3 linked regions of the Homo sapiens genome follow. The protein of the gene in region 1 purifies or fractionates together with the protein of each later gene. This does not show direct contact. Each region holds a gene or a part of one and is shown in the gene's direction. Other genes may lie near its edges.

What was found. The genes of interacting proteins can lie anywhere in the genome.
Region 2: the proteins of CCDC88C (region 1) and WDFY1 purify together in Homo sapiens (affinity purification with mass spectrometry; 2 studies listed by BioGRID and IntAct, with this or other methods). This does not show direct contact.
Region 3: the proteins of CCDC88C (region 1) and ALDH1L1 purify together in Homo sapiens (affinity purification with mass spectrometry; 2 studies listed by BioGRID and IntAct, with this or other methods). This does not show direct contact.

What each region holds. Positions count from the first base shown.
Region 1 is NC_000014.9:91,270,647-91,276,396, reverse strand, and holds the end of CCDC88C (protein Daple), read left to right. Parts: intron 1-2,743; coding exon 2,744-3,772; 3' UTR 3,773-5,074; downstream 5,075-5,750. UniProt on the Homo sapiens protein: Required for activation of guanine nucleotide-binding proteins (G-proteins) during non-canonical Wnt signaling. Binds to ligand-activated Wnt receptor FZD7, displacing DVL1 from the FZD7 receptor and leading to inhibition of canonical Wnt signaling.
Region 2 is NC_000002.12:223,879,080-223,887,326, reverse strand, and holds part of WDFY1 (WD repeat and FYVE domain-containing protein 1), read left to right. Parts: intron 1-2,577; coding exon 2,578-2,679; intron 2,680-5,254; coding exon 5,255-5,385; intron 5,386-7,094; coding exon 7,095-7,203; intron 7,204-8,247. UniProt on the Homo sapiens protein: Positively regulates TLR3- and TLR4-mediated signaling pathways by bridging the interaction between TLR3 or TLR4 and TICAM1.
Region 3 is NC_000003.12:126,177,331-126,185,868, reverse strand, and holds the start of ALDH1L1 (cytosolic 10-formyltetrahydrofolate dehydrogenase), read left to right. Parts: upstream 1-5,282; 5' UTR 5,283-5,393; exon of another isoform or gene 5,394-5,804; intron 5,805-8,538. UniProt on the Homo sapiens protein: Cytosolic 10-formyltetrahydrofolate dehydrogenase that catalyzes the NADP(+)-dependent conversion of 10-formyltetrahydrofolate to tetrahydrofolate and carbon dioxide.

The sequences.
Region 1 (5,750 bases):
TCCCAAGCACTTACTCTGTGCAAGGAGCTGGAGAAGCCAAAGCTGGAGAAAAACAAAGGAGGGCCTGCCCTCGAGAAGTTAGCGGTCTAATGTTGTGGTTCTCAAACTCAGGCGTGCGTTTGAATCGTCTGGGGGCCTTGCCAGACCACAGAACCCATCCCCTGAGTTTCTGAATCAATGGGTCTGAGGTTGGGCTCGCTGAGAATTTGCATCTTTATAAATTCCAGATAATGGTCTTGCGGCTGGGTAGGCACCATGGTTTAAGAACCACTGGTCTGGCCGGGCGCGGTGGCTCACGCCTGTAATCCCAGCACTTCGGGAGGCCGAGACGGGCGGATCACGAGGTCAGGAGATCGAGACCATCCTGGCTAACACGGTGAAACCCCGTCTCTACTAAAAATACAAAAATTAGCCGGGCGTGGTGGCGCGCGCCTGTAGTCCCAGCTACACGGGAGGCTGAGGCAGGAGAATGGCGTGAACCCGGGAGGCGGAGCTTGCAGTGAGTCGAGATCGCGCCACTGCACTCCAGCCTGGGCGACAGAGCGAAACTCCGTCTCAAAAAAAAAAAAAAAAAAAAAGAACCACTGGTCTAGGCCAAGCGGTGGCTCATGCCTGTCATTCCAGCACTTTGGGAGGCTGAGTTGGGTGGATCACTTGAGGTCAGGCGTTCGAGACCAGCCTGGCCAACATAGTGAAACCCCATCTCTACTAAAGATACAATGAAACCCCATCTCTACTAAAGATACAAAAATGAACCGGGTCATGGTGGTGGGTGCCTGTGATCCCAGCTACTCGGGAGGTTGAGGCAGGAGAATCTCTTGAACCCGAGAGGCTCAGGTTGCAGTGAACCGAGATTGTGCCACTGCACTCCAGCCTGGGCAACACAGTGAGACTCTGTCTCCAAAAAAAAAAAAAAGAACTGCTGGTCTAATGGACTGAACAAGAACACTCCAGAAATTGGGGGGGCCCACAGCTGGAAGGCTTTCCTTCTCAGTCTTTTTTTGTTATATGCCCCTTATGATGCTTTCCTTTCCCTTTGGAGATCTGGCAGGCAGGTCCTGAGCAAGGAGTGGGGCCCCTCCCTGCTCAGCTCAGACTGGTCTTCACAGTCCCCATTCCCTGTGCCCTGTACTGTTACCTTTCCATTTTTAGCTTAAATGAGACCAAAACAGTCTGGCTGTAGCAGCTTCTGTTGAAAGCTGATGTCTGGCATGCAGCGAGCCAGCCCCCTCTGTCTGCCTGGTATATTTAACCCCCTACCCCTGACACACCTGACTTCCCTCCTGGTACCCCTGACACACAAGGCCCCTAATGTACACAGGGGCTTCCCATCCCAGGGAAATGACAACCGTATGCCCACCGCGCCCCCACTCTCTGGGCGTCGATGATGCAGGGAGGGCATGTCACAAGATGGGGCTCCCTGCGTGGCCAGGAAGGGTGGGTATCAAAGGCTCTGAGGTGTGCAGGGAGGAGCCTGGTGGAGTGGAAAGCAGCTCTGGAGTCAGGCAGCCATAGGCTTTCATCTGGGTCTGCCTCTCTGGACGCATGGCCTGCCAAACCTCCGTGACCTGTTTCTTTACCTTGATACAGCCTTTCAACAACCTTGCGAGGTCATTTTGAGAATTAAATGAGTTTCTTTGCAATTATACATGTGGTTCCCAGAACAGCACATGGCCCCACAGGTGATGAAAGGTACCTGTGATATCACGGGTCTTACTGGACGCCCACCCAAGATGTGTAGCGTCAAACTAGCATAAAACAGCAGATGTATCTCTGTCCAGTGGCACCATGTCCAGATGTTTGTGTGGGACAGGAGTTGCTGGCAGGTGCAGATGGCTCCTGAGCTACCAACCCGCCTTCAGGCTGACACCTGCCGGCCTCTCATCCCCCATGAACTCACTTCTCTTCCTCTTCATCCATGTCAGCCTCAGGAGAAGCTAGGCTTGCAGAAGGCTGCAGTTCCTGAGTGGGGCCATAGACCCTTGCCTCTGTGGCTCTGCCTATTCCCAAGGTGGTGGCAAATGACACCTGCTCCCTGGGCAGGGGAAGCACAGCCCGGGCGGCAGCTTAGCAGGGACAGTGTGGCGGCTGGGCCTTCCTGGTGTCTTCATTTCCCTGTGCAGCCCCACCATTCCCCCTTCTGGACCCTCGCGGACCCCATTTGTACCTCTCTGTCCCCCACCCCCTCCCATCCCCATTCTGCCTCTCTCTTCTCTTTCTCGGGCCCAGAGAGAGGTCTGAGTGGCAGTGAAGGTTCCGGCGTTTCAAGAGCTGCTCTTGTTCCTCTTGCTCTCGGTGGCGCAAGGTGAAGTCCTTATGATGTCCCGGGGTGACCGGGGAAGGAAGGCCCTGCTCATATCCGCCAGCATTCTAGTTCCTGCTGTGCTTGGTGGAAACCAGACAGACCGAAGCAGTCGGCTATAGTCGAGGTTTCTGGGAAACTTACTCACTTTGTAGGAAGTCATTTCCCTCTCTGGGTCTGTTTCCTTATCTGTAAAGTTAGGGGGTTGCCTGGGGGGAATCTGGGGTTCTTTCCTGGTGGTCCCATGCTGCCTTAGCCACCCTCACCATCCTGCCCAGGGCTGGTGTGTGTGGTGGAGGCGGCACATGTGCCTCGGAGAAGGCAGGCAGGAACTGCGGTCCCAGCCACGTGGGCTGCTCGGGGGCGTCCCGCGCAGGAGGCGGCTCCAAGGACCCACCCAACCCTCATGCCCACCTCCAACCTTCACTCTCTTCTCCGTAGGACACTCCCAGTTGCCGGGATGACCTGCTGAGTGACTACTTCCGAAAGGCCAGCGATCCCCCAGCCATCGGAGGCCAACCAGGACCACCTGCCAAGAAAGAAGGGGCCAAGATGCCCACCAACTTTGTGGCCCCCACCGTCAAAATGGCCGCCCCCACCTCGGAGGGGAGGCCGCTGAAGCCCGGGCAGTACGTAAAGCCAAACTTCAGACTGACTGAGGCCGAGGCCCCACCCAGCGTGGCCCCGAGACAGGCCCAGCCTCCCCAGAGCCTGTCTCTGGGCAGACCCCGGCAGGCTCCGGTGCCCCCAGCTTCCCATGCACCTGCCAGCCGCAGTGCCTCCTTGAGCCGGGCCTTCAGCCTGGCCTCAGCTGACCTTCTCCGGGCCAGCGGGCCAGAGGCCTGCAAACAGGAGTCCCCTCAGAAGCTGGGGGCTCCTGAGGCCTTAGGGGGCAGAGAGACAGGCAGCCACACCCTGCAAAGCCCCGCACCCCCCAGCTCCCATAGCCTGGCCCGGGAGCGGACCCCACTTGTGGGAAAGGCTGGCAGCTCCTGTCAGGGCCCAGGTCCCCGCAGCCGGCCGCTGGACACGAGGCGCTTCTCCCTGGCTCCCCCAAAGGAGGAGAGGCTGGCCCCCCTGCATCAGTCTGCCACAGCCCCCGCCATTGCCACTGCAGGTGCTGGTGCTGCTGCTGCTGGCAGTGGCAGCAACTCCCAGCTCCTGCACTTCTCACCTGCTGCAGCCCCGGCTGCCAGGACCAAGCCCAAGGCGCCCCCACGCTCAGGGGAGGTGGCCACCATCACCCCTGTCCGGGCAGGGCTCAGCCTCTCAGAGGGAGACGGGGTCCCGGGGCAGGGCTGCAGTGAGGGGCTTCCGGCCAAGAGCCCAGGTCGGTCTCCCGATTTGGCTCCCCACCTCGGCCGGGCCCTGGAGGACTGCAGTCGAGGGAGCGTCTCAAAGAGCAGTCCGGCCTCCCCGGAGCCCGGCGGGGATCCGCAGACCGTGTGGTATGAGTACGGCTGTGTGTGACTGTCTCGTGGTTGAGCTCGCAAACCTGAAAACTACTGACGCGCCTTCCGACTCTCACGGCCTTTTCTCTTGCTTGCCTGCGGTGCCAGGAGAGGGTTTGGAATGAGGAAAGGGGTTCCCACGCATTTCTGCTGTTTGTTCTGTGAATGGAAACACTGTGCCAAGCCCCAAGAGGATTACGCTTCCAGGTGTGTAACGTGTTTTCTGTGTCTGCCGCTTCCAGCAGCTGATATCTTTGGAACAAATAATCCACGTCAGCATGGGGACCAATTAGGATGCAATGACAAACTGACTTCCCCCAAAGCAGACACTACTCCAGTATGTCCCAGTAGAACACTCATTTGCAATGTGTTGAGCTCCGTTAAGCACACACACACTCACACAACAGGCTTACGAGGCTCAGGCCTGGCGGGTCAGAAAGCCCACTCCCTCTCCCAAGGCCACTGGATCCCAGGAGAAGCCCAGACTGGCGATACTACAAAGGTCTCCAGGGCCTGGCAGACCCCAGAGTCAGGCCTGCTGTTAAAAAGTGAGAGTGCTGCTGTTCCATTCCTGGGGTCCCAAGCACTTCCCTTTACCCCAGGACCCAGGGCAGCCTGCAGGGCAGCTGGCGGTGGCCTTGGCCATTTGCCCCCAGCCTCCAGCTGGCTCCTGAGCTCTGCACCAGGGGGTTTGGGGACCACACAGGCACCTGCCTTCCTAGATTTCCCTGGCTCACTTTTCTGCAAACACTGGATCTGCCAGGCCTGGGGATTGGGGGGCAGGAAAGAGGCCCCCATCCAGCCCCCTCCAGGCCAGTGTGCACAGTGCACCGAGGGGTCATCCGCACAGAGCGAGGTGCAAGCTCGATGTGTAACCTGGCTGCGGCACCCGACATCCCCGGTCTCGGGGTGTTGATTTATTTCTGAATAACTTTTTGGGTATAGAAACCAATTTTTTTTAATATATGACATGTATATGTACACACTCATGTGAAATATGTATACTTTGGGGGGATCTATTTATGTTCCAGTGGGAGTCACTCTCTTCTGTCGGGAATCTTATCTGCTGCTTTGTGTCTTTGGTCAGATTCCTGACAATTTAGTTTCCTGTTGTAAAGGTGCTTTTCCTGGGGTGAACTAAACCTATTGATTTTTTTTTTTTAAGATTTTTTTTTCCTTTTGATTTAATATACTGAGAAAGAAATGGGAGACTTTTGAATGTTAACAAGATCCATTTTAGGAGTGTTTGGGGTTGTGTATTAAATAGCCATTCATTCTGGAACTCAAGGACAGGACTGTAATAAAATGGAATGGAACCGAAGTGCGTTCTGGCTTTCCTCACTGCACATTGTTAGCATCGGGTGGGCCCCTGGGGACTTGGGGCTCCCTGCGCCCCTCCTTATGCACCCCTCCCTCTGCTCCCCTTCCTCTGTGCCCCTGCACCCCTCCCTCTGCGCCCCTCCACCCCTCCCTCTGCGCCCCTCCCTGTGCCCCTCCCTCTGCACCCCTACCCCTGCGCCCCTCCACCCCCCTGCGCCCCTCCACCCCCCTGCGCCCCTCCACCCCCCCTCTGCGCCCCTCCCTCTGCACCCCTCCCTCTGCACCGCTCCCTCTGTGCCCCTCCCTCTGCGCCCCTCCACCCCTCCCTCTGCGCCCCTCCCTCTGCGCCCCTCCACCCCTCCCTCTGTGCCCCTCCCTCTGCACCCCTCCCCCTGCACCCCTCCCTCTGCATGCCGGCGACCCTTCCTCCACAGTTGGAATCCACCACTTTCCTTGCCACTAGGTGGGGGAAGCTGTTACACGTGCAACCAGAGACAGATGTGAAGGACAAAGATTTCCTGTACGGTGACAGCTTTCCACCCCTCCTCAGGTGTGTTTAAGTTGGCATCAATTGAATCCTATTTTATTTGTTTTTCTAATGGGTCACCACCACCACAGGGGGCATGCAATGGGCTGGAGACCAGTCTGGGCAACATAGCAAGACATTGTCTACAAAA
Region 2 (8,247 bases), on another chromosome or scaffold:
TTTTGCAAGAGTTACGCTTGGGCATGTCCCAGACATAAGAACTTTCCTTCTTCCGGCAATTAAATACCCTGTGCCATTGGCAGCACAGCCTGCTGTGTCTCTCTTAGGGACAGTGTCCCCAGGTAGTATCCCCACACATCACCAGCCTCCATCACCACCTGCCTTGCATTGATCACAGAAACAAAGAAGTAATTCCATATCAAGAAAATAATCTTTCTCACATAGATACACATCTCTTTATTCTTCTTTCATCCCTTCTCATCTCCAACATTCCCCAGTTATTTAAGGAAACCTTTCTTCTATCTCAGCCTATTTCAGTCTACTTGTGAGTGCCTTCTGCACCCCCACCTCAAAAAAAGGCCTTTCTAATGTCTGTTATATGTAGAAATATTTCTAGTGACCGATCTAAAATAAGAAATAGGAAGGCCAAAAGTTTTGATGCAATAGGAGAGAAAATGAAGAACTAGGGGCACCCATCGTTCAAACCACCAAATATATTAATATATATTTTAGAAAAAATATTTTCTACTATTTTTGTTGCACATATATAATGTTAAGTGATTGGGGTTAAACAGGCTTTTTTTTTTTTTTTTTTTTAGACGGAGTTTCACTCTTGTCGCCTAGGCTGGAGTGCCGTGGTGCAATCTCTGCTCACTGCAACCTCCACCTCCCAGTTTCAAGCGATTTTCTCTCCTCAGCCTCCTGAGTAGCTGGGATTATAGGCATAGGCATGTGCCACCACGCCTGGCTAATTTTGTGTTTTTAGTAGAGATGGGGTTTCACTACATTGGCCAAGCTGGTCTTGAACTCCTGACCTCAGGTAATCCGCCTGCCTTGGCCTCCCAAAGTGCTGGGATTACAGGTGTGAGCCACTGCGCCCGGCCTAAACAGGCTTTTAGCAGGTTTGTCTTAGAATTGAGTATAGTTTGTAATTTTTTGTTTAGAGAAATATTTTCTAAGTTTTTATTTTGTTTTGTTTTGTTTTTTGAGACAGAGTCTTGCTCTTGTCGCCCAGACTAGGGTGCAATGGCATGATCTTGGCTCACTGCAACCTCCGCCTCCTGGGTTCAAGTGATTCTTCTGCCTCAGCCTCCCAAGTAGCTGGGATTACAGGTGTGTGCCACCACACCCGGCTAATTTTTGTATTTTTAATAAAGACGGGGTTTCACCGTGTTGGCCAGGCTTGAACTCCTGACCTCAGGTGATCCATCTGCCTCGGCCTCCCAAAGTGCTGAGATGACAGGCGTGAGCCACCACACCTGGCCTATTTTCTAAGTTTTTTAACAAATTAATTTTGAGACTGCTTCCTCTGTTTCAACAAAAATGCATTAAAAACCTACTGTGTGACAGGCTGTGGCTAGATCAAGATGAATAATACCAAAAAGTAACTCATTGGTTAGAGGGGAGAAGAAACGTGCACCAAGAGTTCCAGTACCAGAGCTTGCTGCTCAGTGAAGCTGCAGGATGCCTGTGTGGCCCCAGGAGGGAGGGACGTGCTGCTGTGGCTGGGAAGGGAAGGGGGGCAAATCTGCCGGCATAGTCCCTACCCAGAGCAACTAGGTGATGGGGTTTTGTCAGATCTCTTCTGTTAGTCACCTGTGACCCCGCAAGCCTTTCCAAGTGGTAGGTCACCAGATTCTGCTGCATGCACTGGGTTTCTACTCAACTGGATTTAGAGTTCAAACATCTTTGGCATAAAAAAGAAATACATAAAGACAACCCTTAAGGGTTCACAATAAAAACTGATTTACTCCCTCCTATCTATAGATTACAAATTGAACACCCTGTAACCATGGCTAAAATTGCCATGATTACTCGGCACACAGTTAAGGCTGGGCGCAGTGGCTCGTGACTGTAATCCCAGTGCTTTGTGGGGCTGAGGCAGAAGGATTATTTGAAGCCAGGAGTTCAAAACAAGCCTGGGAAATATAGTGAGATCCTGTCTCTACAAAAAAATAAAAATAAAAAATTAGCTGGGCATGGTGACACTCACCTGTGGTCCCAGCTATTCGGGAGGCTGAGGCAGGAGGATCATTTGAGCCTGAGAGATCAAGCTTGCAGTGAGCCATGTTCACGACACTGCACTCGAGCCTGAGTGACAGAGTGAGACCCTGTCTCAAAAAAGACCCCCCCCCACACACAATTAAACATAATATTGAATATGACAACTAGCTAGAATATTTCGTGGAATTAAAAAGAAATGCTAACTGGCCGGGCATGGTTGCTCATGCTTATAATCCCAGCACTTTGGGAGGTCAGGAGTTTGAGACCAGCCTGGCCAACATGGCAAAACCCCATGTCTACTAAAAATACAGAAATTAGCCTGGAGTGGTAGTGCATGCCTGTAGTCCCAGCCACTTGGGAGCCTGAGGCAGGAGAGTCACTTGAATCCAGGAGGCAGAGGTTGCAGTGAGCCAAGATCACACATACTGCACTCCAGCCTGGGAGACCAAAAAAAAAAAAAAAAGAAGAAAAGAAATACTAACCTTGGCAAGGTCTAGAACTGTTGTATTAATTTTGAAACATGGGAGTAAATATAGACACACTGATGGTGGCTTTGACTTTCTGCTCCCCCAGGCTCCTCAGTGGTTGGAAAGTGATTCTTGTCAGAAATGTGAGCAGCCATTTTTCTGGAACATAAAGCAGATGTGGGACACCAAGACGCTGGGGCTAAGACAAGTGAGTAGCCACTGTCGAGTCATCTCTGGCTTGATTGTGTATTTCACTATTTGCATACTTAATCTGGGGTTTTTTTGAAACACACTTTGTTTTTGCAAATGCTATTAATTCCTACATTTTCTATGTCTTTATCATTGTGTGACTAACAATGAGGAAGACCTTTCCCAGGGCCAGTGAGACTGTTACCTCACTTTTCCATTGCTTGTCCTGTATTGGAAAGGCAGGGGTGCGTAGAAAATCCTGAGAGCCTATTTTTAAACAGATAAAAGATCTTTCAGTTTAAGACTATTACTTATTAAAGTCAGTGTTTTATGCTAGCCAAGAACAAAATTAGAATAAAGTCATACAGTTATATACCTTATGCTGTCACAAACAGATAAAAAGTAATAATTTAGTCCTCACTTGAATGCCTGACCCTATGAGTTTTAGATTATTTTAAATTGTTCCCTTATAAGCATACCTGGAATATTTTTATTAAGCATGTTTTGAGTACTGTTTTTTAAATTTTTTAATTAAAGAAATATGTTCCAAATAGCCTGTAGATTTTAAAGGTGCTGTTAAAGGATTCTTGTAATACTAAAGTTCTACAAAAAAAAAAAAAAGCAGGTAAGTAAAAAAGAATGCTGATTTTATTCCTTTTATTATTGGTTGCATCTCTATGAGCGATTAGCCTAAAGTTTGTATGTGTTAATAAACTTTTTTGGCCCTGCATGGTGGCTCAGGCCTGTAATCCCTGCACTTTGGGAGGCCGAGGCAGGTGGATCACCCGAGGTCAGGAGTTTGAGACCAGCCTGGCTAACATGGCGAAACCCTGTCTCTCCTAAAAATACAAAAATTAGCTGGGTGTGGTGGCGGACGCCTGTAATCCCAGCTACTCGGGAGGCTGAGGCAGGAGAATCACTTGAACCCAGGAAGCGGAGGTTGCGGTGAGCCAAGATCACGCCACTGCACTCCAGCCTAAGTGACAGAGCGAGACTCCATCTCAAAAAATAAATTAATTAATAAATAAAATCTAAAAAATTTTACTCAGAGATACTCCACAGTAAGGTCTCATATGAGACTGGCAGGCAAGAAGGGAATTATTAGTGCTCAGACCATTATAAAGCTCTGAAATAGCACCTGAGTTCTGTCTGTCATTAGCCAAGTTCTCACAATGCATGGCTGATGGTAATTAGTGCAGTATAATTAATAGGTGAAGTATTCCCTACTTCTAAAGGAAACACAGAGAAATGGATTTTACTTCCATTTATTAACAGTTAACAGAAGAGAGAAGAGGTGCTGGTCACTAAACTTTTGGCGGTAAAAGAATATGTCAAAATCAGTAATAATAATTGGACTATTTTGTAATGTTCTTGAGGCTTATTTCCAGAATCACAGTTTGAGAGATTTTAGAAAATAGCAAAATACATGATTATGGGCATTAGTTTCTTAATGAGAGCATAGTGCATTTAAAACTTATTTTAGACCGGGTATGATGGCTTATGCCTGTAATCCCAGCATTTTGGGAGGCCAATGTGGAAGGGTGGCTTAAGCCCAGGAGTTTGAAACCAGCCTGAGCAACATGATGAGACCCCGTCTCTATAAAAATAAATAAATAAAACTTATTTTAAAACCCTTTAGGCTGGGCATGGTGGCTCACACCTGTAATCCTAGCACTTTGGGAGGCCGAGGCAGGAGGATCACTTGAGCCTAGGTGTTCAAGACCAGCCTGGACAACATAGCAAGACCCTGTCTCTGCAAAAAAATCAAAAAATTAGCCAGACATGGTGGCAGACACGTGTAGTGCCAGCTACTTGGAAGGCTGAGGTGGGAGGATCGCTTGAGTCTGGGAGGTCAAGGCCGCAGTGAGCTGTATGCCATTGCACCTTTGCATTCCAGTCTAGGTGACAGAATGAGACCCTGTCTCTGAAAAAAAAAATAATAATAATGCCTTTTTTATGATGGAGGAATAAATTTTTCTTTCCCTAAATCTACAGTGATTAGGCTCCTAAATGAACTAAATTTGTTGTTAATAATATTGTTTGTTAACATGTAGACAGATAATATGAATGAATGAAAAGCAACATTTGACCAGTACAGCAAAGTTTTTTGGAAATCCTTGACTAGTGTCAGAATTGTCTATCTTGTGAGTGTTAATTGATACATTGAATTGGGGTGATTGCAATTCAAGGCATATCCTCCCCGCTCCTGTTGCCCTACTTTAGAGGGAAACCATGTGCTTTAAAGCAAAAGCTAGGCCAGGCGCAGTGGCTCACGCCTGTAATCCCAGCACTTTGGGAGGCTGAGGCAGGTGGATCATGAGGTCAGGAGTTCGAGACCAGCCTGACCAAGATGGTGAAATCCCATCTCTACTAAAAATACAAAAATTAGTCAGGCGTGGTGACAGGCACCTGTAATCCCAGCTACTTGGGAGGCTGAGGCAGGAGAATTGGTAGAACCCGGGCGCCAGAGGTTGCAGTGAGCCGAGATCACGCCACTGCACTCCAGCCTGGGTGACAGAGTGAGACTCTGTCTCAAAACAAAACAAAAAGCGAAAGCTAACACCCTGTTTTCCTCCTCCCGGTCACCTGTGAAGCATCACTGCAGGAAATGCGGGCAGGCTGTCTGCGGGAAGTGCAGCAGCAAGCGCTCAAGTTACCCAGTCATGGGCTTCGAGTTCCAAGTCCGGGTTTGTGATTCTTGTTACGACTCCATCAAAGATGAAGAGTGAGTGTTTGCATATTTTTGTCTCATTGCCTCTTATTACATCTGTCTAATGGTTCTCTGAAATGTGAAGAGCTTCAGAAGTGATAGGATATGTTTAGCCATGTGTTTGTTTCTCCTGAATTTCCTAAGCCATTTTATTTGTTGTTTGTTTTTTGAGACAGAGTCTTGCTCTGTCACCCATGCTGGAGTGCAGTGGCGTGATCTCGGCCCACTGCAACCTCTGCCTCCCGGGTTCAAGCGATTCTCCTGCCTCAGCCACCCGAGTAGCTGGGATTACAGGCGCCCCCCACCACCTGGCTAATTTTTGTAGTTTTAGTAGAGATGGAGTTTCACCATGTTGGCCAGGCTGGTCTCGAACTCCTGACCTCAAGTGATCTACCCACCTTGGCCTCTCAAAGTGCCAGGATTACAGGCGCGAGCCACCGTGCCTGGCCCCTAAGCCATTTTTGAAGAGAGGACCTGCCCTAGCTTTATGACTTAAGACCATGACTATGCATCTTAAGTTGCCCCTCTGACTGGGCAGCTTTCTCCTGAACACAGTGAGGAATGCTAAGTTACATGGTCCAGTAACTGAGTGGATACCCTGAGCCTCTGCATCCCACTGGCTGCTATGCAGGGATAAGTCCATGCACCTGTGGATGGCAGTGGTTGAGCTGGTTCTCTATAAAAGTATCCAGTGCCCAGACCTTTGTTCACACATGCATGTAAATTTACTGGGAAAACTCTAGAGACCAATGTTCTTTCTTCCACAGAAATCTGGCCTAGCAGTCTATTCTTAAATTGCTCTTTGTGTGTAAGACACATCTGTTTGATACCCCACTCTGCCCTGACTTTTAGGCAAATCCGTTAGGACAGAACCACTATTTTCTTTCCTTCCCTTTGAATCATCTTTTAAAGCAGCAGAGGCAAATGTTGGCAGAGGTCCACATTGGAAAGCTAGTGCATCACGACTGGTGTTGGTAAATGAACTAGTGATGGGATTGGGGCAGCTGGGCTTTGAAGCGGGTGCTGTAAGAGGCACTGCTCCTGTGCATGGCAGAGGTTTCAGGGAAAACGGCAGCTCTCTGATGTTTTGCCCATGCTGTATGATTTTATTCAATGCAGTTCTTCTTTTATATTGAAGATTCTTGTTTTTATATCTAGGAATGTATCAGCCTTTCCAGTAAAAAAAAAAAATCAGTTATTTTGGGAATTTTATAAAACAATCTTGTGATTTAACATGCTTTCTGTCATCATTAAATTATAAGGTTAGTTTTCAAAACCATAGCCACAATTTTAGGAGCAAATTTTAACACTATTATCATAAGCATTTACTTTTTTTTTTTTTTTTTTTTTGAGACTGAGTCTTGGTTGATCACCTGGGCTGGAGTGCAGTGGTACAATCTCGGCTCACTGCAGCCCCCACCTCCCAGGTTCAAGCGATTCTCCTGCCTCAGCCTCCCGAGTAGCTGGGATTACAGGCGTGTGCCACCACACAGAGCTAATTTTTATATTTTTAGTAGAGACGGGGTTTCACCATGTTGACCAGGCTGGTCTTGAACCCCTGACCTCAAGTGATCCACCCGTCTCGGCCTCCCAAAGTGCTGGGGGTACAGACATGAGCCACTGCACCTGGCCATATTTGCTTATTTTATGTTGCTAAAAAAGCTTACCCCACTAGCTCTAGGTACAGTCAAGTAAATTTTCAGTGATCTCTTTTCTCTTGTTAGTCGGACTTCTCTAGCGACCTTTCATGAAGGAAAACATAACATTTCCCACATGTCCATGGACATTGCCAGGGGACTGATGGTGACCTGTGGGACCGACCGCATTGTAAAGGTAAGCTGGCTAATTGTCTGTCAGCATCTCAGTTGAGATTGCCTATTACCATGCTGTGAATGTGCAGGAGACAGTCACTCTTTCTGACTGGCAAGCTTTATAAGCAAATGATTGCCAGTTTAAAACCTTGAGTAACAAATTGCTTGCCTCTGAGTTTCCATGCATTCATTGGTGGTCAGTCCCAGTGGCACCTCCCTCTGCAGTGTCTGTCTGGCAGAGTGAGTCTGGCACCCTGTATATCCCTATGGGTGGAGTTGACCTCTGGGTTCTCCCTTGCTGGCCTGGGTCCTCACCCCTGACCCATCTCAAGACATTCCTACGCTTGCCAATGTTCCTTTTCATCCTGGGCAGAATGCGTCCTCAGTATAAGGAATAACCACACATTTTAACAATTAAATCCCTGGGTCACTAACACATAAATTGAAATGAAGTGTTTTATACTTAGTACCACTCTTTTTTTTTTTTGAGATGGGTCTTGCTCTGTTGTCCAGGCTGGAGTGCAGTGGCACAGTCACTACTCACTGCGGCCTTCACCTTCCAGGCTCAAGCAATCTTCCCACCTCAGCCTTCCAAAGTAGCTAGAACTACAAGTGCCTGCCACCAGGCTTGGCTAATTTTGGGGGGATTTTTCATAGAGATTGGGTCCTACTATGTTGCCCAGGCTGGTCTCAAACTCCTCGGCTCAAGCGATCCTCCCATCTCAGGCTCCCAAAGTACTGGGATTATAGGCATGATCCACCATGCATGGCCTAAGTACCACTCTTCAGTGGTGAAACTGAGATATTCTATATTCCTGATGGGCTTTTCTAAAAAAAAAATTGAATTTATACTAAAACATTATTATGATTTAATTTTTATGTGTAAAGACACTACCTATATGCTTTATTCACATTTTAGTGAACTACATTGTTTTATCTTTCTGAAAATCTTTTTGTTTGAGACAAGGTCTCGCTCTGTCACCCAGACTGTAGTGTAGTGGTGTGACCTCGGTTCAGTGCAACCTCTGCCTTCTGGGCTCAGGTGATCCTCCCACCTCAGCCTCTT
Region 3 (8,538 bases), on another chromosome or scaffold:
TTCCTTTTTAAGTCTGAATAATACTCCAGAATATTGACTTTTTAAAGATGTTTTTACTTTGCAAAATAAGAAAATGAGAATCTAATATCAGTTACTGGAATGCTGTTGAAATTGCCCTGGCCTATGAAATCAGAACATCTTGTTACCACTGGACAACAGAGTGAAACCCACAGTCTGCACCCCATGTTGTGGCCTCGTGACCCCTGACTTTGCCAGCTTCTCTCCTGCAGCTGCAATGCTTTCTCCTGATTCCTCAAAAACAACCCACATCCCCACCTCCATGCACCAATGCATCATTCTTACATTCTCTCCAACTGGAACGTTTCTTATTTTTTGCTGGTTAAAGTCATCACAGTCTTACTGGGCCTTATCTCCCAGGTGAAGCCTGAAGTACCCAGACCCGCTTTCTTCATGTCTCACCTCTGTGATGGTTCACATCCCCTCCCACCTTTCATATCTGCCACCTGTGCATTCATCTCCCCCATAGAGGTGCGAGCACCTGGAGTAGAGACACCGTCCCTGCCTCCTCTTTGCTCATTTATTCCTTTACAGTGAGTTTCTGGGGGCCATGTGCCAGCCAGGTGCTGGCACCAGCCAGTTTGCATGGGGGTGCAAACACGCAACACCCCCAGGTTAGATTTGGCATGGGGCTGGAGAGGACCTGGCAGGAGCAGGGCTGTAAGCTCTGTGGCCCAGAAGCATTCCATCTATGTCTGCAGGTCATCAGGTGGGCTCTGGTGTGTGGCACAGAGCTCTGTTAAGTCTCATCCCTACCTTCGCCTCTACATGAAAAATTGCATGCAGGCCCTTTAAAGGGGGAAATATGGAGAAAACCATTTTGAATTCTTGGTTCCCACTGGGGAGAGGTTCTAAGGGGTGGGGATCAGGTGACATCATGAGTAACTCACGAGGCAGGGTAGAAGCATCTGAACGAGGCATCCTAGGAGATAAAGAGAAACACTGGCTCCAAAATTAAAACAAAACAAAACAAAACAAAAACAAGCCCAGGTCACTTGGCCTCCCCGCTTTGATTTCCCACAGGCTATGACCTTCAAGTTAATGTTTCCTTTGCAGCGTACACACAGTCCCAGTTACTGATTCCCCAAAAACAAGCTGAATCATCATTATACAACAGAAAGAGAACCCATGTCTATCCCATCCCCCATTCACAGAGCCCTGAGCCAGGCTTGTCTCCTAATCTGCCTCTGGATTGGAGCAGTAGCCCCCATTGTTCTACCCAGACTTGGGCTGTGTAAGTGCACACTGCTTTCCCTGGGAGGACTTAGCCACCAGGGCCCTGCGGAAAGCCCGGGCAGAGGCTCTCTCTGCAGGGCTTATCCAGCCACTGTCACTGCAGGTGCCTCTCCTGGATCAGGGCCTGTGCAGGGCTGTGGGATACACAGATGAAACAGGCCCTGTCCCTGCCCTCAGAGGTGTTGCAGTTGATAAAGAGACAGACACACATATAAATAGTTGCATTAGAGTGTGGTCTGTGCTGTGAGTGAGGGAATTCCCAAGGAGAAGGTTGGGGTCAGGCTTCCCAAAGGAGATGATGCACAAGCCCATCCCTGGGGCACAGGCAGGGCTCAGCTGGTGGCTTCAAGAAGCAGGGCATTCCCGGCACAGTGAACTGAACTGGCAAAAGAGGGTTTCAGTGGGACTCGTTCAGAGAGTATCATATAGTCCTGGGACAGGGACAAGCTGGCTTCTGCCACTGTCTGACCTCAAGCCTCAGCTTCTCTCTCTGGTCTATGAAAGGATGGATTCGGAAATCACACAGTTACTTCCACCATCTTTCATGTGTTAAAAGGAAGTCACTACGTTCAGCCTACATTCAAAGGCAGGGGAATTAAGTGCCACTCCTTGAATGGAAGAGCATCAGAGAGTTTTAAAATGACCACAGTCCACCTACTGGCCACAAACTACTTACATCCTTCCACATGCAAAATACATTCGCCCTCCAAACATCCCCTCAAAGCCTCATCCCACTGTAGAATCAGCTCAATATCCAGAATCTCTGCATCTAAATCAGGCTTTGATGTGGGTGAAGCACCTGGGGTATTATTCCCTCAAGTGTAGCTCCTTGAGTAGAGTTGCTCTCAATCTACAGACTTAGGAATTCCAGAGACAAATTAACTGCGCCTCCCCCCTGCACCCACCTGACATAAACTGGTGGGATAGGCATTGGATAACCACTGTAGACGTGCCTGCTCCAAAGGGAACAAGGACAGGAGGCATGCAGGAGTAACTAGTGTACGGCAATTCTAAAATCTTCCTGGGCGGGTCCTGAAAGTCTCTTGAATAGGACTCAGTCTGACTCTGGCCCCAGAGTGATTCTCCACGCTCTTGGCTCCACCCTTTGGGTTCTTTGTTCTATTCCCCAAGTCATCCCTTCTTTTCCATGAAATGCAGCCCAGGTTCATATCCGTATAGTTTCTCAGCTTGCTTCCTCCCAGAATTTGGGGGAGTCTAGAGGTCTCTTTTCATTTTATATTGTCTCTGACCCTTTCAGTCCAAGTCTACACTGTTTTGCTCATATAATTCTTTTAAAAATGTTGCATGTCTCCTGTAGATCTCACTGAGGTTCATGCCTTTAGACAACTGTCAAACCCACACATCTCTTTGAGAAAAGCCCTTCTCTCTCTTGGGCTTCTGCTGAGACTGCTGTCAAGGACAACTGTAAGCTTCTTAGAAATCCTACTATTTAACAAAATATTCTGAGGTGTCCCTTTGTTCTCTTTGAAGATTTTACAAAAGATCTCATGACCACACTCTTGGCTTCATCTTTAGGCCATCTTCCTTGCACTGGCCTGCATTTGCTCTTTGCCTGGAAGCCATTTGTTAGTTTTAGCATCATATGACATCTGGAGAAGCTGGACATTTTCACAGCCCAAGTTATGGTTCCTTTTTATTTAACAATCCTTCCTTTGGCTTATGTCCCTTCTCTCACATTTTAGTATAAGCAGCAAGAAGAAGCCAGGAGGAGGCACCTTCAACAATCTCCTTAATGAGATCCCCCAGTTCATCTGGTACATTTTCTACTTTCCACATGATTTCGGAACACTTTCTGCTTAAAATTCCCTCCTCTCCTGCTCCATACCTCTAAGAGTATGGATTCCTCTCTGATTTCCTAATACATCTTTTTGGGGTGTCTAACCTCCAAGCCATTGTTCAGTGGTTCCTGTCGCCCATCTGCCTTCTCAATTTTAACTCCCAAGTTCAGAACACACCACTTTCCCATTGCAGGCCCCTAACACTCAGCCAGTTTTCCTACAGATTATATGGCACACCTTCCACACACAGGGCATGCATTCAGCCCTGGGGACTTCCCAGGAGAATAAGCTAGTCTTCGCCATCATTGTCCAGAGACATGTTAATCAAGCAATCCCAGAAGCAGTGATAAAATTGCAGTTGAAGGCAGGGTGCAGTGGCTCATGCCTGTAATCTCAGCACTTTGGGAGGCTGAGGTAGGTGGATCATCTGACGTCAGGAGTTTGAGACCAGCCTGGCCAACATGGTGAAACCCCGGTGAAACGTCTACTAAAAATACAAAAATTAGCTGGGTGTGGTGGCGCATGCCTGTAATCCCAGCTACTCAGGAGGCTAAGGCAGGAGAATCGCTTGAACCTAGGAGGTGGAGGGTCCATTGAGCTGAGATTGCACCATTGGACTCTAGCCTGGGTGACAGAGTGAGACTCTACCTCAAAAAAAAATAAATAAATAAAGTTGAGAGAGGTTCATGAAGAAAAATTACAGGCCTCTCTGTGATCACATAATGGAGGAATCTGTCCTAGTAAGGCTGAGGCTAGGGAAAGCTTCCCTGAAGTCATGGCATTTTAGTAGGAACTTCCTGAAGAATGATGGGGGTTCTCTGGACAAAGATGAACGGCACATGGAAACTTTATGAGTCGAGAAGTTCCACAGATATGAGGGACAGCAGGGAGACCTGCAGGCTGGAGCCTAAAGAACAAGGGGACAGTGCCTGAAAGTAGGCTAAGTGGATCAGCAGGCACAGGCCACCTCAATCCTGGGTGCCCATACTGGCTTATGTGAGCAAAATACATGCATTAAGCCATTCAACAAACATTTATTTAGCAACTGCTACAAGCCATCACTGTGTATTGGGGATACAACAGTGAATACATCTCACAAATTTCCTGTCCTCAAAGAGCTTACAGTCTAGTGGGAGAGACAGACAATGAACAAACAAAGAAACAAGGAAATATCAGATATACAGTTAAGTGCTGTGAAGGAAATAGAACAGGGTGATGTGGCAGGGAGTGGCTGAGGGACTTCCTTAGTTTGTGTGACCTGGAACAGCCTCTCTAAGGCTCTGCATCAGATATCTGATATGTGATACCATATGGGAGCAGGCTCTGAAAGAACACTACAAGTAGAGAGGTAAAGGCAGGGGCTGCAGCAAGCCTGATGTGTTCAGGCACTGAGCAGAGAGAGGGCCAGGTGGTCGGGACTTAGCGAGAGGGTCGCCTCAAAAGAAGTGAGGCTTAGCAGGGCACGGAGCAGTGCGGCCGCAGGTGTGGTGGGAAGGGTGTTCCAGGAGAAGGAGCCACCTGGACACAGGCTTGCAGTCATGAAACAATACGCAATTATCACTCCCGGCATTCTACATGGCCTTGCCTGAGACCGGGCTGGCCAGGATCTCTGGGAACCAGGAGGAGGGGTCTGCGGCACCAGGACTGAGTAGAAGGGAGAGAGTGGAGAAGGGGAATTGCAGAGAGAAAACCAGGGGCTGTTTTTCTCTCGGAGAGGCGGGTAGGCACTGGGCGGGCAGAAGCGCCGCTATCCACCCGGATGCGCAGCTGCTAAGGGGCCGCCTCTGCAAGCGGCTGCAAATTCCCGGAGGGCAGCGTCTCCTTTCGCTCTGCTGTGTCCGTAGCACATGGCAGGTACTTGGCCCATCAAGAGTGAGAGAGGGTGAGCGAGTGAGTGAGTCACCGGCTTGGCGAGGGTCTCCTCTGACCCACTTAGCCTTGCCAGCGCTCAGAACTGCCAGCCCTGCTGGGTGCTTGGGACTTTTCAAAGCCCTGGGAATTCTCCAAGGGTCCACAGTAAGTCTTCTTGACCTAAGCGGGAAAGAGCGCAGGCCCCTGCGGGGTTGGCTTTTACATGGCATTTATAGACCCGCCCGGAGAGGGTGCGCTGCGCTCCCGCCATAGTCCCACCACCGGTGAGCGCCGCCCCCACTCGGCTGACTCTCCGCCCGCCCCGCGCCCCTCCCCTCACGGGCTCTGGCCTTAACCAGAGCTCGCGGACTGGCGGGGACAGGTCCCACCTCCTGGCTCCCAGGACGGGTCTGCACCAACCTCAGTTTCGGGGCTGCGGCTCACAGAAGTCTAACCTGCCCGGGACGCCCGCACCAACTCCTGCGCGCGGTGAGTTTCTGGGCTCTCGAGAGCGCTGGACTCCCGGCGGAAAGGAGGCTGCCCCGGCTGCAGCTCCGGGGGCTCCGGGGGCTCCAGGGGCTCCAGGACTCGGTTCTCACCGCAAGGGCTCCTGCGGGGCCCATCAACTTCGCCGCTGGGACGCCGGGCTCGGGGTACGGGTCCGGAGTTCTTTGGAGCAATTGAGGCTGAACCTGGCCAGGGGTCATCAGGCTAAATGACCGCAGCGCCAGGACTGGCCCGCCGAGGATCTGGCCGGCCGCGGTGGTAGGGCCCTTACGGAGCTGGCGCCAACCTGTGGGGTGGGCACTGCTGGCCCGGCTTATGGAAGAGAAAACTGAGGCTCGATAAGAGAAAGGGACCAGCGAAGGCGACGCGATGATTTGTGACTGGGGACTACCTGTTTCCTGGGCCCCTCGACCCCATTCTGTGACAGGGAAAGGTCTTCCCTGATTGGCCAAATCTGGGGGCCTGGCACGAGGGCCTCTTGTGATTGGAGGGGTCGACGTGAGCGCTCAGGGGCTGCGCTGGAGTCCCAGCTCCAGCCACTGCGCTCAAGTGGACGGTCGCGCGTGCAGAGGGAGGCCGGATAGCAGACCCCACAACGTGGCTCCTGGGGCCCCGCTATCGAGAGCTCAGGCCCCGCGGGCACTTGCCTAGGAGAGGAAAGAATCTTCCCAAAGTGCAGACAGAGACGGAATTTAATCAGGAGTCCCAGACTTGGAGTTTGGAGGCATGGGCTCTGGTGTCAGGTGACTTTGTTTCCTCCCCACGCCTCCACTTCTCCTTGACCTTGGGCAAGTTTCTTGTGTTCTGAATCTTAGTTTCTTGTCTCTAAAATCGGGAGGGGCAATGAACAGTAGTGCCTGCCTCCCAAGATTGCTTGAGAATTACATGAGACTGCCCCGCGCCTGGCCCTAGGAAACCCTCGGAGAATGTTGGCTGCTGTTTGTTTGTTTGTTTGTTTGAGACAGAGTCTCGCTCTGTCGCCCAGGCTGGAGTGCAGTGGCACGATCTCGGCTCACTGCAACCTCCGCCTCCCGGGTTCAAGTGATTCTCCCGCCTCAGCCTCCCGAGTGCTAGAACTGCATTCATGGGCCCCAGGGCCCTAGCACCAGAACAGAGGGCCCAGAGCTGCAGTCCTGCAGGGTGGCCCAGCCTCACAGGGACTAGAAGCTGGGTCCTGGAGAGCCAAGCCTGGGCTGGGAATTGGGTAGGAGGGTTGGGAGGCCCAGGAAGCCTCCCAGTGTCCCCACACCACCAAGTGAAAGGACACTGAGCGGCCATGACTGGGGGAGGAGGTGGAGGCCTGGAGGCGGCCCATACGGCCCACAAGGGGCTCTATGGGCTTCACTGCAGGCCCCTGCTCTTTCTGGGGCCAAAGGGCAAGCCTGATTGAGGCCCCTCCCAAGGCTCCCGTGCCTGCCATTCTGGCTTTCCCTGGACTGTGACAACAGCCCCTTGGTGGCCACCTGGACTCTGCCTCCCTGCAGGGGGGGAACGACATACTCTTTTATTTTTTTTTTTCAGAAGTAATCATGTACAATATAAAAAAAGAACATTCAGTTAAGAAAACAAAATAATTACAGTCGTCAAAAACCTCTGAAACCCAAAACCCTTTACCCAGTAACTTTCAACATTTCAGTGTAAATTCTTCTAGGCTTTTACCCTGCAGATAAACACACGCATGCACACACAGACACACACACACACACACACAAACTTAAGCCTTACACAATTATCGTGGTTTGTTACTTGTTGGGTGTTTTGACAGTGTCAGGTTTGTATAACTCAATATTTACCAATATTTTCTAATAATTTAATGTTTTCTTCTTATATTTGATTTTCAAGTATTTATTTTTAACCCAATTGGACTGTATTTTAGAGTAAGATGTGAACTATAGAGCTAGATTCATTTATTTATTTCAATTAGTAGACATTTTTAGAGCAGTTTTAGGTTTACAGAAGAATTGAGGACGGAGTGCAGAGTTCCCATATTCTCAGTCTGTCCCTTCCTGCGCGCTTTCTCCTATTTTTCTTTCTATTCTTTTCCTTTCTTTTTTTTTTTTTCTTTTTTTTTTTTTTTGAGACAGGGTCTCACTTTGTTGCCCAGGCTGGAGTGCAGTGGCACAAACACAGCTTACTGCAGCTTTGAACTCCTGGGCTCAAGTGATTCTCATGCCTCAGCCTCCCAAGTAGCTGGGACTACAGGCATGCACAACCACGCCTGGCTAATTTAAAAATTTTTTTGTAGAGATGGGTCTCACTTTGTTGCCCAAGCTGGCCTTGAACTCAAGGGCTCAAGTGATCCTCTGCCTTGGCCTCCCAAAGTGCTGGGATTACAGGCATGAACCACTAGGCCTGGCCTCCCCTATTTTTAACATCATGCATTGATAGGATATTTTTGTTACAGCTTTTTTCTTTTTGAAACAGTCTTGCTCTGTTGCCTAGGCTGGAGTGCAGTGGCACAATCTCAGCTCACTACAGTTTCTGCCTCCCAGGTTCAAGCAATTCTTGGGCCTCAGCCTCTCGAGTAGCTGGGATTACAGGTGCACCACCATGCCCAGCTAATTATTGTATTTTTATAATAGTAGAGACAGGGTTTTACCATGTTAGCCAGGCTGCTTTTGAACTCCTGGCCTCAAGTGATCAGCCCGCCTTGGCCTCCCAAAGTGCTGGGATTACAGGTGTGAGCCACCAGGCCTGGCCAATTTTGTTATACTTGGTGAGCCAATATCGATGCAATGTTATTAATGAAAGTCCATAATTTACATTAGAATTCCCTCTTGGTGTTGTACCTTCTATGGTTTTGGACAAACATATAATGATGAGTATCCAGTGTTACAGTATCATAGAGAATAGTTTCACTGCCCTAAAACTCTCCTGTGCTCTACCCATCCACCCCCCAACCCCCCTACCTATCCCTGGCAACCACTGGTTACTGCCTTTGTAGTTTTGCCTTTTCCAGAATGTCATATAGTATGTATGAATCATATGGTATATAGCCTTTCCAGACTGGCTTCTTTCGCTTAGCAAAATGCATTTAAGCATCCTCCATGTCTTTCTGTGACTTGGTAACCCATTTCTTTTTATCATTGACTAATATTCTGTTGTATGGATGTGGAGGTACCACAGT